2 separate regions of the Homo sapiens genome follow, and region 2 is linked to region 1. The links come from fine-mapping of genetic effects on gene expression. A gene starts in region 1. The other region holds a variant in brackets. All regions are shown on one strand. Distances are from middle to middle. Region 1 holds the start of PCYT1B (phosphate cytidylyltransferase 1B, choline). Region 2 has its middle 15 kb from the start of POLA1.

Evidence for each region. PIP is the estimated chance that this variant, and not a neighbour inherited with it, causes the effect.
Region 2: its variant is fine-mapped to the expression of PCYT1B in lung (TOPMed, PIP 0.94).

The regions. Positions count from the first base shown.
Region 1 is chrX:24,642,499-24,650,884 of GRCh38, reverse strand. It overlaps PCYT1B (phosphate cytidylyltransferase 1B, choline), which reads left to right and starts at 3,538. Exons shown (of 8, transcript NM_004845.5): 1 at 3,538-3,896. The coding sequence starts at 3,780. It overlaps PCYT1B-AS1 (PCYT1B antisense RNA 1), which reads right to left and starts at 812. Exons shown (of 2, transcript NR_046638.1): 1 at 736-812. RefSeq lists an enhancer at 3,293-3,342.
Region 2 is chrX:24,674,868-24,683,253 of GRCh38, reverse strand. It overlaps the pseudogene LOC100288233. Among named protein-coding and RNA genes, the nearest start is that of POLA1, 15 kb to the left of the region's middle. The variant C/A (reference allele first, on the strand shown) is at 5,166.

The DNA.
Region 1 (8,386 bases):
TATTCCTACTATTGCTGTAAGTTGTATCTTTTTTGCCTTTTATAAATAATTCTGCATTAAGCATCTTTGTACATAATTATTTGTGTGCTTCTCTATTTCTTTTGGGATAAATTACCAAGTGGAATCCCTAGGTCAAAGGGTATGAATATTCTAAAGGCTGTTAGCATATACTGACAAATATCCTCTATGGAATTTCTAATGAAGTTAACACATGCATGGATTTTTTGAAATCATTACCATAATCAAGATACATAATGATTCTTGGACGGCCACAGTGGCTCACGCCTATAATCCTAGCACTTTGGGAGGCCGAGGAAGGTGAATCACTTGAGGCCAGAAGTTCCAGACCAGCCTGGGCAACACAGTGAAACCCTGTCTCTACCAAAAATATAGAAAGATTAGACAGGAGTGGTGGCATACACCTGTGGTCCCAGATACTTGGGAGGCTCAGGTGGGAGGATCGCTTGAGCCTGGGAGACAGAGGTTGCAGTGAGCTGAGATTGCACCACTGCATTCCAGCCTGGCAACAGAGTAAGATCCTGTCTGAAAAAAAAAAAAAAAAAAAAAGCTACATAATAATTCCATTACCCCAATAAACTCTCTCCTGCTATCCCTTCATAGTCATCCCCTTCATAACCCTTATGGAATATTTAGCTCTGTAGTGTGGAATTAACTGATCATTCTTAGCTAATTGTCTTGATAGCATTACAATGCCCCCAAGTTAAAATAACTCACTCAAGTATTATCAAGAAGTTTCTGAGTCAGGTTGTAGCAGCTGCCAGGACTGGTCTCCAAAGTGGGTGGATCTGTTAAGGACTCCTCTCAGAGTGGTGCCTGAAAGAGCCTATTTCTGCCATTAAGACTGCAAGACATGCTGAGATTCAATCACAGGACTGTGGGGAGAGGAGCAGGAAGAAGCCAGGACTAGGCTGGAGCAGAATTAGTGGGAATGGAATTAGTTATAGAGCTGACCCTCAGGGCAGTTAGACAGAAGTCTAAATTTCAAAGTTCAAGGACTTGGGATGAGTAAGTGTCAGGTGTGACGGACTTAGCACAAAGTAGCACTGAAAGCTAAGGATTTGATGTGGGTAATACAATGAAGATATCCTAGGCAAAGGCAGTATCTTGGTTCAATGGGACAGGGGAGGATTAGGAGGAGAAGAAGGTGAGGAAGGGAGACAGAAGATATTGGGAGTCTAAAGGAATGGCCTAGGCTCTTGGACAAGAGTTCACAAGGACTCAGCTAGACATCAGAACTCTTTAAAATGAGCAGGTGAACAGGTGAACCTCTCATTCTGGAGAGAGAATTAGGTGACCAATTAGGAACCAAGGGGTGGCTCAGTGGCCAAGAATACAGTGGGGTTTAGGTGCTTTCCAATGTGAACAGTGACTCTAAGGTAGTGGTTTGTAAACTTTAGCGTGGGTCAGAATGCCTCCCAAACCAGGAGGTTTTGATTCAGTAGGTCTGGAGTGGGAAGCCAGAATTTCTGATTCAGTAGGTCTGGGGTGGGGATCCAGAATTTCTGACAAGTGACCAGGGCTGCTGCTGCACTTCTTGGAGAAGTACACTTTGAGAACCACTGCTCTAAGGCAAAAATACATATATTGAGATTAGAATAACCATGTCATTTGCACGTCACCCAGTACACGTAGGAAAAGGGCTCCTAAATGTAACACAGGGCTTGGCTCTTCCAGGTGATGAGCTGGTAGAGTTAAACCTGCTGCTGGAAGTGTTTTGTGCTTCCAGGAGGGCAAATAGGGTAGGAAGCATCACTGGAATTCTCACAACACTGGAGTTCTGTCCTGTATAGGTCATAATACTCTTAAGTGATGTTATTCTGACTTAAAGGGCCAGCATCTAAAACTGTCAAACTGTAATTCTCTGCTACAGAATCCATTTTCTTCTTCTTTTAGGACTAGCCCTCTTTGCTTATTGAGGAGTAATAAAAATAATGTCCCCTTATATTAGCATAGCACGTTCTAATTCAAAAAGTGCAATGACATGATATCTCATTTGATCTCCTTTCTGTGATGGAGGCAAGCCCGGTATTTTTATCCCATCCTTTGGGCTACTGATTCTCAAAGTATAGTTCCCAGACCTGCAGCATTAACAACACCCAGAAACTCTCTAGAAAAGCAAATTCTGACCCCACCCCAGACTTACTGAATCAGGTCCGGGGTCTGGCAGGGGGCCAATAATTCGCATTTCTAACAAGTTCCCTGGTGATGCTGATGTTGGTGCTGCTGGTCCCAGACCACACTTGAATGAAAACCACTACTGTAGATAAAAATGAAAGATGTAGAAGCCCAGGGACTTGTCCTAAGAGGACTCCTGCCTAGATCCTTTTCTTACTACACCTGCTGCATCCCTGGTCCCTACGCGCCCGCCCCCACCACCTCGCCCTTCGCAAAAAAAAAAAAAAAAAAAAAAAAAATTCCTTCAAATCCCAGCTGCATTATTTTAGAATTTTGTGAATGTGAATACCTGTAAAATGAGGATAACAATAGGATCTACCTCTTTGGGTTCTCACAAAGATTAAACAAGAACTAGGTAAAGTACTTAGCACCGTGCTTGTGCTTAATAAATGCCAGGGATCATCATGATTTTTTATTAATATTAAAAGTGACAATTCACAATGAATACCTTGGTAAGTTCTTTGGATGTGTGTCTTCAGAATGCTCCTCTTAAAATGTGAATGTCCCTAGATAATGTAGACATTAAAGCACCTGATCGTTAACATTCCATCTCTGATTGCCATGAGCATTTGGCTGAGAGCAGGGTACTTCGGAAATGGGACCCACGACTGGTAAAGTAGGAACCAAGAGAAAATAGAGCAGTGCATGGAACAGTGTATTGAAAGGCACACAACAGCAAGACTTCTTGAGGAAACTTTGAATAGCTGGGGAAGGGGAAGAGTGGCTGACAGAGGAAGCAACTGCGAAAGGGCAGCCAGGAGTAGGAGGCAGGCTGTTAAAGACAATCTACCTCCTTCAAAGTTCCCCCTAGGGCAGCCCCAGGGGAGGGCTCCAGGGCTACACCAGGCCACGAGGGGATCTGCCAGGGTTCACGTTGCATGAAGTCCAGGGGTCGAACACTCAGGTGCCCATAGTGAATGCCCGGAGGGGCCCTCCACTGGCAATTAGCACAATGAATTTGGGCTCAAAAGTGGCTTTGTCTTCAGGGTGACTCCTATTTGGCAAATATCCTGACTACAGCACATCATGCACTAGCTCATCCCAGGGACATGGTCCTTTATTAGTGGAGGTCTGCTATGTTGTTTCTCAAGGCGTCCTAGGCCCCTCAGGAAGCGGTTTTATGTTATCTGGGTGGCGCAGCCCGGGTCCCGTGCCCAGAGAGGACGGAGACCTTTGCAACTGAATTAAACAGAAGAAACAAAAGCAGCAAGTTCGGGCCCGTGGGTACGGAGGGCTAGCCAATGGGGCCCGGCCGCTTCCCGGCGGAGTGGTACTATGATGACAGTAGCCAACCAGCGCGCTCTATGCAAATGAGATACTGTATCCCGCACCAGCCGCTTCAGTGTCGTCTGGTTGTTATAGTGATAAACTGAGGCCTTGCCTCTTGGCTTCTGGGAGAGAGAGAGAGAGAGAGGGGCGGGGGGTAACCTCTTTACTTCCCCTAGGGAAGACAGAAAGAAGGGGAGAAGAAGCGGGGGGATGGGTGGAGGGTAGAGGGGAGAAAAATACGTGACAAAGAAAACATTCTCTGCCTGGGAGGAGACTCTCTGAGGGTGTAGAGCTAGAGGGAGCATTCACTGGCCATGCCAGTAGTTACCACTGATGCTGAGTCAGAAACAGGTATCCCAAAATCCCTTTCCAATGAGCCTCCCTCAGAAACCATGGAGGAAATAGAGCACACATGCCCACAGCCTCGACTGGTAAGTAAAGACAAAGGATGGAAATGTATGCGTGGCTATGGCATAAAAGAGTTCCTTATGCGCCCGCAGCCAGCGAGGAAAACGATGCTTAGAGGATTTTCATGTAAATGAGAAGAGCGCTACCGCCTAATCCTTCTCAGCTGTTTATACTTAGCTTCTATACCGGGCGCTGCTCTCAGTTTACAAAGCGTTATTGTATTGGCTGGGTAGGAAACGGGCTGCTTGGGATATGCTGTGTTTTTGTGCTTCGGGAGGAGGGGAGGGCCTTTTTCCTTTTAGGTGTGTTCTTGTCTGAAGGTAAAAAAATCCTACAGTGCAATTTTAAAATGGTATTCTCTTTACCAAGCTCGGGAAGAGTCCCTTGTTAAGTTTTAAATTCTAGCTAAGGAATGCTTCGTTCCTCAACTGATTTTGGTGCCTAATGCCAATTTGGGGGGAAAAAAATGGAAACATGGAAGCAAAACTTCCCCATCCGTTTGAAAATGTTCAAAATAAATAAATAAATAAATACATAGGAGTCCCTCAATGATTTAGTTAGAAATAATACGCATTTAAAACGAATTGTAAAACATTTCCAGAGTGTGCTGTGAGGGTTTCTCTTCAGGTAGTGGAAACCTGGGGAGCTACATTTATTTAGAAAGGGGTTGCATGCCTTTAAGAATGAAAGTGTGGAAACGGGGTACTGAGAGCGTCCTTCCGCCTCCGTAACTGCACCGTAACTGCTCTCCCAAATTTGGTCGTCTCTCTATCCCTGGTCATGATCTTTTAGGTAGATGTGAAACTTCGTTCCCAACCACCTCAGCATGTGTCCTCAAGGAATCAAAAACACGCATGGGTGGTGGGTTTTCTGTGGTCCGAAGTCTTGTGGAACTTGGGGAGACCTCTCTTTGAGTCCCCCAATCCAAAAGACACACTAGTTAAAGCTATCCTTTCCTTTAGCGATTTCCCTCAAGTTAAAAGGTGGAATATTTTGATTGGCTGTGGAGTTTGACCCTGGGAAGAGTTTTTTAAAAAAGGATTTTGTGATGTAGCATTTTCTGTGAACCTGCAAAATTAGGGCTCGCAGATGAGAAGGCCAACCCATCATAAAACTGTTATTTCTTAATAAGAGTTAATAAGGGTTCAAAGGAGGCTTAGAACAACTTCCTAAAAAGCACAAATACAGAGGAAGTTATATTAGAGCCCTGTGGGCTTTTTTCCCCTATGCTTCTATTTTTAAAAATGTTTTCTCTTAGGGCAGTTTAATAGTAACTGTGCCCTAGCACTTTAGCCACTTACTGAATGACATACACAGTGCAGTGTCTATGTTCTCATGAGATACAAACCATCCCAATAAGTTTGTTACTAAGGGATTCCTTTGAGTCACTAAACAACTTATGGTTTAGCATAAAGGAAAATGACCACTAAAAGCATATTACAAGATTATCATATGCACATATACATATATACACATAAATAGAGAGAGAGACTCACTCTGTTTTCCAGGCTGGCCTCAAACTTGAACTCCTGGACTCAAGTGATCCTCCTGCCTCAGCCTCCCAAGTAGCTGGGATTACAGGCTTGTGCCACAGCACTGGACCAATATATATATGTGTGTATATATATATATGTATATACACACATATATACATATATACACACATATGTATATATATTTGTGCCCATGCTTACCCAAAAATATATTTTTTAAAGTAACCACAATCTTCAAATTTGCATCACATACCTTCCTGACAGAGGTAAAGGGCAGAGGAGAGAAAGGCGGCATCCAGCTCCAGTTTGTGCATCATTTCAGTCTCTTTTGCCTACTATTTTTCCTTCCATTTTTACCTCTTAGCTATTCTGCTTCTTGATTGCTTCTGCCTGAGGGAGATGGGCAGAGAAAATTAAGGGAAAGAAGAAAGTTCAAGTTACTTTCTTGTTTTTTTAAGATGGAGTCTCACTATGTCCTCCAGGCTAGAGTGCAGTGGCCTGATCTTGGCTCACCACAACCTCCACCTCCCAGGTTCAAGCGATTCTCCTGCCTCAGCCTCCTGAGTAGCTGGGATTACAGGTGGGCAGCACCATGCCTGGCTAATATTTTTTTGTATTTTTGGTAGAGACGGGGTTTTGCCATGTTGGCCAGGCTGGTCTCGAACTCCTGCCCTCAGGTGATCCGCCCACCTTGGCCTCCAAAGTATTGGGATTACAGGTGTGACCCACTGCACCTGGCCAAGTTACTTTCCACTTTCACTCGTGACAGCTTATTCCAGGTGGTAACTCACAAGAACCACGCAAAGCTGGCAATGTGCTCTACACCCTCACCTCCCACCCATTGTAGAAATAAGGAAACTGAGGTTCAGAGAGGGTAAGTGACTTGCCCAAGGGTCACACTGCTTTGAAGGGGGCAGAGCTGGGATTTGAACCCAGAGCTCTACACCGGAAAAGTGGAAGATCTTTCTTCTATAACATACTCATAAGTGAGATACATTCCCTTCCCATCTTTTTGGCAGTTCTGGTTTCGTGTGTGTGTGTGTGTGTGTGTGTGTGTGTGTGTGTGTGTATCATGCACATGCATAGGTATGATACAGATGTACATAAGTTGAACTGTTGAAGCACCTGCTTTGATTTACTTATGATACAAAATTTTCCACGTTGTTCATCATTGTCATGGGCTACTGAAATTTGACTCTGTTTAAACAGGGGCTTGCAACCAATTTATAAAACACTACTAAAATTTTCAAATTGCCTTCTCTCTTATTAGCTAACTTTGATCACTGTAGGGTTATATTCTAAATTTAGATTTATACTTTATAGCCTAACTTTCCTTTGCTAATGATCTTACTTTAATAACTAAGGCACATGCTAACTACTTAATAAAAAAGTTTGTTGATGAAGAGAGTGAGCAGCAAGTGAAAACATGAAATTAGCATTTCTTTCTCTGGTTTTTAGTAGTTTCTGTTGATCTTGTAGCTTTGCTAGTGTCTTCATATTTCAAATTGTATAAATTCTGCATTTCTCCCAGCACCCAGGCATATAGCTCCAAATTGTATGTGGGTCACTGACACCACAGCCATCAACAGAGTGTGGCTACTGAGTTGCTTAACTAACTATGGAAAGTGTATGAAATATTTGCAGGGGGCCTGTTTAGGATTGAAGCTCCACACTTGGATTCTCCTTCAGAGGGCAGGCTCCTTCTCCTAGTTGCTGAAATGAAGTGGGGAGCTGGCATACGTGAGTGAATAAATAGACTTTAAAGCAGTCTATATTTTAGATCCCTGTAAGTAACAAATTGATAATAATATTGCAGATATGATTGAATTATATTTCAAGGGGAAGTTCTTCTGCCAGGAAAACTTGTAGTTTCTCTACCTGCCTTATTCTTCATTAGAGGAAAATATAAGAAAGGAGACGATTAAATAGAATGCAGTAACTCTGATAAAGAAATTAGAAAAGAAATAACAAAAGCATTACCTAGGTTTTATGATAGAGCCTATATTTTAGGAATATAATCTTACTACTCTTACCATTTTACCATGGTGCTCTGATTTGAGATGCTTCTGAGAACTCTTTACATTGTTACAATGTTTACTCTTGATTCTTGACTTGTTTTCAGTTCTTTACTATTTTCCTGATTAAACATGATGCAAGGTGACTCATCAGCTTGACTGTCAAGATGAGAAACTGAGTGGCCTTGGGTGATATGATGTAATAGCCCTTCTTGGAAATCTAACTCCTGAGATACAAGGACTCCTCTGAGCAAGGACTGTGTCCTCATATCTTCCCAGCCCTCAGATTATGCCTAGAAAGATCCTCTGGGCTCAGCAGGTGTCCCAGAAGCCCTTTCTAACAAGGCCCAGCCACCCTGAAAGTTGTCTGCTTGAGAATTTGGTTAATGACCTTGGACAAGTTCTTCTAGGGGTGCATTCTGTTGTCAGAAGGAATTGTAATTCTAGACTGCAATAGTCACTTCCATGAAGATGGATATACTATGGATCAACTGAGAAGGCCTTGGAAATAAAAAAGGGTTGGTTCAACATGCCACATTAGCAGGAGGAGTTCATTTCGGGTTTTACTTCAAAGTGGAGCAGTGCCAAGAGACTGCTGTCTTGCAGAAGGTGCATTATGTCAGTTTGGAGGTAGCATGCTCATCTGCTAGTATTCAAAAAGATGACCAGATTTCCAGAGACATCAATGGCTTCCTTTGCTAATATTGCCATCTACTTAGCCACCCAGAACAGCATACATTTTAAAAGTGAAACACTCTTAATGCGCAATATTGGCGAAAATAAACAAACGTGAGCTTCCTTGGGTATTTACTGTGGTCAACTGGAATTCTGCCTAAGGTTATTATTAGGTATCTTCCTGCTGGTCTCTATCCAAATGCAACATCCATGTCTTGCAAATTGATACTAGTCAGGTGTATTTAGCATGGAATCAATCAATTAGTTTCTTCCATTCTTTTAGGTTTGTTCTCTCACTACCCCTCCAACCCAATTTGCCTAATGCTAAAC
Region 2 (8,386 bases), 32 kb before region 1:
ACCTTCTGCCATGATTGTGAGGCCTACCCAGCCATGTGAAACTATGAGTCAATTAAACCGCCTTCTTTTATAAATTACTCAGTCTCAGTTATGTCTTTATCAGCAGCGTGAGGACAGACTAATACGAAGATCTTCCTCAGATCCTCACAGTGAGAATCTGGTGGGCTTAAGCCCACCAAAATGTGCGGTCCCTCCCATGATACCAGCCTCTAGGAGTCTCTTACTCTCATGCTAATCCACATTCAGCCTCCAGCTATTAATCAAAGTTACCATCTAAGTGTCCGTACCAGTTTATGGCCCCAGCAGCTTCTGCTCCAGGTAGGCAGATCTGGACTGTGATTCTCTGTATATGCCTGTCTCTCTAGATTTGGGGATGGCAGTTTGCCCTGCTATCTCAGTTATCTTATGAGTCTAAGAAAAGTCATTAATTTTCATTCAGTTTGTCCATCTTTTTCTTGATATAAGGATGGTAGTGACAACTTCCAAACTCTTTACATGTGTGAGCTGGAACCAGAAATCTCTTGACCATCTCTTGTATATCTTCTTCTTCTTCTTCTTTTATTGGAGGGGAGGGAGCAAATAATTTTTAATTTTTTTTTTTGACAAATACACTTGAGAGTCATGCAATGCTACCAGAGCTGTATCTAATACTGGGGCACAATTCTGCACCCTCCTTCACAATCTGTCCTGTGATAGCAGAAATTTTTATCTTACCTTTATTATTTCCTATAACTTCCACATTATCTTCAAAATAAAGAAGCATTTCATCTTTTATCTGGTAAGACTTTCATTGTCAAATTACCACTGCTAGACCAGGCGCAGTGGCTCACGCCTGTAATCCCAGCACTTTGGGAGGCTGAGGTGGGTGGATCGCCTGAGGTCTGGAGTTCAAGGCCAGCCTAACCAATATGGTGAAACCCCGTCTCTACTAAAGTACAAAAGTTAGCTGGTCGTGGTGGTGGGCACCTGTGATCTCAGCTACTCAGGAGCCTGAAGCAGGAGAATCGCTTGAACCCAGGAGGCGGAGGTGGCAAGTGAGCTGAGATCGCACCATTGCACTCCAGCCTGGGCAACAAAAGTGAAATTCCATGACACACACAAAAAAAATTATCACTGCTGGGTGTACCTTCTTTCTAAGCTGTGGTTTGCCTTTCTTAACTGTAGCCATCACCACATCACCCACACCAGCAGCGGAGAGTCTGTTCAGCCATCCCTTGATTCCCTTCACTGAGAAAATACACAGATTTTTCAGCTCCTGTGTTGTCAGCACAGTTGATTCCACTCCTAACAGAAGACCCAGGGAAATCCAGAATTTCATACTGGAAGACCCATCACGTCCTCCCTTCAATATCTTAAAAGCTGGAAAAAGGCAGAAAGCTGTATACCTTTTTTGATGAAGTCTTTGTTCAAATATTTTGCCCCTTTAAAAAACTGAGTAACTTGTTTAATTATTAAATTGTGAACTTTTATACATCTGAAATAAAAATCCTGTAAAAATAAGTGTTTTGCAAATATTTTCTCCCAGTCTGTGGCTTACGCTTTTTATTTTCTTAACTGTGTCTTTGAAGAGTAAAAGTTTTTATTTTTGATGTAATTCAATGTACCCATTTTTTGTGGTTCATGTTTTTGTGTCCTATCTAAGAAATCTCTGCCTAACCCAAAGATTTTCTCCTGTTTTATACTAGATTTTTTATGGCTTTTACATTGAGGTCTATGATTCATTTCCATTTTTCTATATAATGTGAGATACAGTTCTTTTTTTTTCTTTTTTTTTTTTTTTTTTTTTTGCTTCTAGATATCCAATTGTTCTGGCATCTTTTTTATTTTTTAATTTTTATTGTGGTAAAATACATATGGCATAAAATTTATCATTGTAACTATTGTTAAGGATACAATTCAATTGCATTAAGTATATTCACAGTGTTGTGTGACCAATTTCCAGAACGCTTTTTTTTTTGAGACGGAGTCTCACACTGTCGCCCAGGCTGGAGTGCAGTGGCGAGATCTGGGCTCCCTGCAAGCTCCGCCTCCCGGGTTCACGCCGTTCTCCTGCCTCAGCCTCCCGAGTAGCTGGGACTACAGGCGCCCACCACCATGCCCGGCTAATTTTTTTGTTTTTTTAGTAGAGACGGGGTTTCACCGTGTTACCAGGATGGTCTGGATCGCCTGACCTCGTGATCCACCCGGCTCGGCCTCCCAAAGTGTTGGGATTACGGGCGTGAGCCACAGCGCCCGGCCCAGAACGCTTTTTATCTTACAAAACTCTATACCAGTTAAACAACAACTCCCCATTCCCCACTCTCTCTAGCCCCTGGCAATCATCTCTCTACTTTCTGTCTCTGTAAATTTTACTACTCCAGGTACTTCATATAAGTGGAGTCAAACTGTTTGTATTTTTGTTGTTGGCTTATTTCACTTAGCATAATATTCTCAAGGTTCATCTATGTTACAGCATGTGTCAGAATTTCTTTTCCTTTTTAAGGCCGAATAATATTCCATCGTATGTATATACCACATTTTGTTTATCCATTCATCCATCAATGGGTACTTGGGTTGTTTCTACTTCTTGGTTTTTATGAATAATGCTGCTATAAATGGTGCACTTTTTAAAAAGGCGATTGTTTTTATCATGGAAGTACCTTGGCATTTTATTGCAAATCAATCTACCACACACGTGGATCTATTTTCTGGATTTTCTATTCTGTTCCATTTACCTATCTGTCTATACTCATGGCAATATCACATTGTTTAAACTACTGAAGCCTTATAGAAGTCTTAAAATCAGGGAGTCTGAGTTCTCCAACACTGTTCTTCTTTTCGAAATTATTTTGGCCAATTTAAGTCTGCATTTTCATATAATTTTTATGATCAGTTAGTCAATTTCTACCAAAACTCTTGCGGGAATTTTGACTGGGATTACACTGAATCTATAGATGAATTTGAGGGATGTCTCAGTCCCGGCTGCTATAACAAAGTACCTTAGACTGGGTAATTTATAAATAACAGAAATTTATTGCTCACAGTTTGGGAGGCCAGGAAGTTTGAGATCAAGATGTCAGCAGATTTAGTGTCTGGTGGGGGCCTGTTTCTTATAGATGGCACTGGATGTCTAAGTGTGTTTCTCTTCTAATCACAAATTGATGCAGTTGCATTGTCCACAGTCATGAACATCTGGAGGTGAAGTTCTTAGAAATCCTTAACTTGCGGCCCCTCCAACACAACAATTTCTTCAGGATTCACATTTGAAGGTAAAGACTCTCTTTTGCCTTGGTAGATGGGAGAATGGAGAAGAGGAAAGGGGAAGGTGGGAAGATACAATGGGTTAGGCTCTCAGGTCAAGCACAGATATCTTGCATCATGCAAGGGTTGCTGGCAAATGGCAAAAAGTCACGAGAAAGATGTAAAAGCAACTACAAAATATATTATGCTCAGTTTTCTTCTAACTCAGTTTCACACCAAGCAGAAAGTGAGTTTTTCTATTAGTAAGAAAAATGTCTGCAAAGTGCCAGTGATCCATTAAAATAATTGTTGTGAGGTAGGGGAAAGAAAACAATGTCTGAGTCGCTTGGCTTATCACTCCAACAGCTCAGAGAAGTTTTGTTAATGGCCTAATGGATCAACAAACTTTAAAGACATTTATTTGCTTGGAACTGGGTTGTTTCACCAAGTTACTGCAAATAAAACTACTGTGTGTCTAAAAAGAAAACTAATAAATTCCGAACGTTGTTGTTCCCTACAATTTTTCAACGCATATATTTTTCTTTGACACTAGTTGTTCTCCAGATCCTATCTCTATCTTTAGCATTATTTATCTGCCAATAGTTCTTTCAGGAGTATCTCTTGTTGTGAAATCAGATTGTTTTTCTTTGCATTATTCTCCTATCCACTCAAAGCCATGTTGAAGAAGAAGAAAATAGGGCAATTTCAATGCCAAAATCATTTGTTCATTCACAAAATGTTTATTGAGCACTTAATATGTGCCAAGCACTGTTCTAGGCACTGGGGATATCAGCAGTGAGGCAAAGTCCCTGCCCTTACATTCTGTTGGGAGAGACAGACAATAAACCAATAAACATAATGTATTAATATTCCTTTGTAATTGGTATTCTAAAACAAAGTAAAGCAGGGTAAGGGGGAAAAGAGAGTGATGCTTTGGAGTTGGGGCATGAAATTGATCATTTAAGTCAGGGAGATATTCAATTTAACAGAACTTGATATGGTTTGGCTGTGTTCCCACCCAAATCTCATCTTGAATTTTAGCTCCTATAATTCCCAGGTGTTGTGAGAGGGACCTGGTGGGAGGTAATTGAATCATGGGGGCTGTTTCCCCCATACAGTTCTCATGGTAGTGAATAAGTCTCATGAGATCTGATGGTTTTATAAGGCGTTTCCCTTTTCGCTTGGCTCTCATTCTCTTGTCTGCTGCCATGTAAGACGTGCCTTTCTCCTTCCACTATGATTGTGAGGCCTCCCCAGTCACGTTCCACGTGAGTCCATTAAACCTCTTTTTCTTTACAAATTACCCAGTCTCAGGTATGTTTTTATCAGCAGTGTGAGAACAGACTAATATAGAACTCATATACTGATTTATAATTCCATGAAGGTGGATACTGTCGTAATTGTCTTCATTTTTCACCTGGCTTCAGGCTTGACACACAGTAGATGTTTGATAAATCCAACAGAAACAGCGATATGCAAAAATACCTACATTCTGCTTTTGAACTTGTGTATGTCTTGGCATCACGTGGATGGACTATGATTCTAGTCCCTACTTTGGAAATGCAAAATCCATACTTTGCATTCCTTCTTCAGAACTGTTGATAGTTAATTTTAGGAAATCCAAAAAAGCAAAAAGGTAGGGAGTCATCAGTAGTCACTTTCCTCCAGGCCCATGGAGCCTACCATCTCCTCATCTGTTCCTTTATTTCATCTCAGGGCTAACATCCCCAGAGCAGCCTTGGATAACGTCATCAGTCAAAGAGGAGTTTCTGCAGCCCAGTTAATCAGCAAACACACGGCAAATGATGAGAAGCAGTTACAAAATGCTTCCAGGATTCATTTATTCACATAACGATAATTTTTATTTTTATTTTATTCTTTTTTTTGAGACAGAGTCTTGCTCTGTTGTCCAGGCTGGAGTACAGTGGCATGATCTCGGCTCACTG[C/A]AATCTCCGCCTCCTGGGTTCAAGTGATTCTCCTGCCTCAGCCTCCTGAGTAGCTGGGATTATAGGTGCATGCCACCACGCCTGGCTAATTTTTGTATTTTTAGTAGAGATGTGGTTTCACCATGTTGGCCAGGCTGGTCTTGAACTCCTGAGCTCAGGTGATCTGCCCATTTTGACCTCCCAAAGTGCTAGGATTACAGGTGTGAGCCACCACGCCTGGCCGACAATAATTTTTAAAGCAACTACTCTGTACCAAGAAGTACTCTAGGGGTAGAGCAGATTATTTCACCTTAGTCCAGAATCTAGCCCTCAGCTACTTTGATGCAGAAAATCATATTGTTCATATATTCAGAGATCATCAGATTTTTAATGACAATCTACCTGTAATTATCTGTATAATTAAAATCACCAGAAAATGCTAAGTCATTCATTTCCAGAGTGATTTCAAATATCCCTAGCTGGGTTTGCCTCTAACATTTGTGGGGTCAGAGCAAGAGTATAAATGGAGGCCCATGTATCATAGGTCTAAATATTTAAAAGTTTGAAATCTTGCTAACAGACTGTACATATATGTGTGTATACACACACACACACACACACACACATACACACACACACACACACACACACATCCCATCTTCCTAACTTGACAAACATATCTTGTTAATGACCTAGGAGGTCAAGTGGCTTGGAGTTCTTTGCAGGAAAGGTGGTGGGGAGCAGAGCCCCTTCTCTGTTCCCCACCACAGGGTGGAACCAGCCTAGATATCCAGGTTCTGCTCACATCCTCCTGCTACAATCCCTTGCTTGACCACCCCTTGTGCCTAGAGATGTGCAACTCTGCAGTGAGATTACTCCTGAGAAGGTGGCCATGAGGAAGAGGCCAAACAGGCCCTGGAAGCAGGCTCAGGAATTTGGGCAGAGAACTCCAGAGTGTTCTAGAAGGAGGATGGGGGTCTCCATATGTGCACCCTGTCTCCTTGGCCCATGGACTCCTCAGAGGAGGAGAGCCAAAGCAGGACCCTTAAAATGGGGCCCAAGTCCATGATTCAGGGCACCCCCTACAGACAGATGAGGTACTAGAAAGGCAAACAAAATGCTGCTGGGGAATTAGTGGAAAAGGAGGACGGTTCACCAGCTCTGGAGCTGAGGCCTAGTTGACCATCCCTCCTGGCATAGAATACCCCCTGGCCAGAGAAGATACTTGTCCTCCAAATTCAGGTGTGTATCTCCTGTGATGGGGCTAACACAGTTTGCTTCCTCAACAACTCCGTTTTCTCTGAGGATCAGTGGCTGCAAAGGCTCCCTGCAGACTGGGAGATTACATAGGGCTCACCACGTAGGGCTGCTTCAGCTCAGAGGAGTACCTTTTTTTTTTTTTTTAATTCACACAAAGTGCCATACAAGGTAGCTGAGACCTGCTGCTGCCAACCCATTTCCAACTATACGGAGCTGGGCGATTCTCAGAGCTCTGGAGCACCCCTTGTGGTAGAAGAGAGTAAAACACATTTTTTTTCTTTTTTCCCTTTTAAAATTATTAATTTTTTTATTTGTAGAAATTTATGGGGTACATGTGAAATTTTGTTACATGTATATAATGCATATTGGTCAAGTCAGGGTATTTGGTGTGTCCATCACCTGAGTACAATACACTTCTGTTGACTATAGTCACCCCACTCTGTTATTAAACATTGAATTTACTCCTTCAATCTAACCCTATGTTTGTGCCCTTTAACCCACTTCTCTTCATCCTCCCTCTCCCACCACTCACCCTTTCCAGTCTCTGTTATCTGTCTTTCCACTCTCCACTTCTGTGTGATCAAACTTTTCAGCTCCCACATATAGGTGAGAATGTACAACATTTGTCTTTTTTTGCCTGGCTTGTTTCACTTAAGATAACGACCTCCAGTTCCATCCATGTTGCTGCAAATGATCTTTTATTATTATTATTTATAATTGACACATAATAATTGTACGTATTTGTGTGGTACAGTGGGATATTTTAATACATGTGTGCAATGTGTAATAATTAAATTGGGTAATTAGCAAATCCATCACTTAAACATTTATCATTTCTTTGTGTTGGTAACATGCAAGTTTTTCTTCTAGCTATTTGTAAAGATGCAGTAAACTTCTCTTAACTATAGTCACTGCACAGTGCTACAGAACTTTCAATACGAATCCCTGATACCATTTTAGTTCATGAGATTCTCAAAAGTAGAGAAGACCCTAGAAAGCCACCAATAAGTGTTTGGATAACAGACACCTCCATAATCCAAGGGTAAACGGCTTGATTTACTGACCCAACTAGGTCTGTGATGAGAATAGCCTATGTAGTGGTATTGGTGACTCTGTCCTCATTATCTTTGTTTTATAGTCATAATTAATCAAAACCTACCCTCTCACCTTTCTTGTGCTCATGACAAAGAATTACCTGCTCTAAGCAGGAATTAACTGAGGGAGTAGATTGGTAGTGATTCTTCTTTGGGATGTGAAACAAGAAGCTTGGAAATATAATCAAATGCACTGTTATTCTAAGGTATGACAGCAAGAAGCAATTTCAAAATATGCCTCTCTTGTAAACCATTGGGCCTTAATGACACAAGAGTGATTTTTCCATTACTGACAAGAGCAAACAAGTGCAAATAGAGGTGGGTGATTTTTCCTGACAGCTGAACCAGGCTTCAGTTAGTTTCAGAGAAACTTTCTATTTGAGTTGACCTGTTCGTGCTCCATCAAGTTGGGACATCATTTTAATGGATCCAGTGAATAAATCTGGAGGAAATAATGTGCCCAGGACTTGGGTATGGTTTTTTTGTTTTTTTTTTTCTGTTTTAATTCACTACTTGGAACCTACCTCTACAGTGTGGCTTACCTTTGATGGCCAATCCCAGTCTCTTTTGGGGAATCATCTATGCAAGATAAGAATAAGGATGAGGGCTGGGAGCGGTGGCTCATGCCTGTAATCCCAGCACTTTGGGAGGCCAAGGAGGGTGGATCATCTGAGTTTGGGAGTTTGAGACCATCCTGACCAACATGGTGAAACCCTGTCTCTACTAAAAACACAAAATTAGCCAGGTGTGGTGGCGCATGCCTGTAATCTCAGCTACTAGGGAGGCTGAGGCAGGAGAATCACTTGAACCTGGGAGGCAGAGGTTGTGGTGAGCCGAGATCGCACCATTGCACTCCAGCCTGGGCAACGAGATCGAAACTCTGCCTCA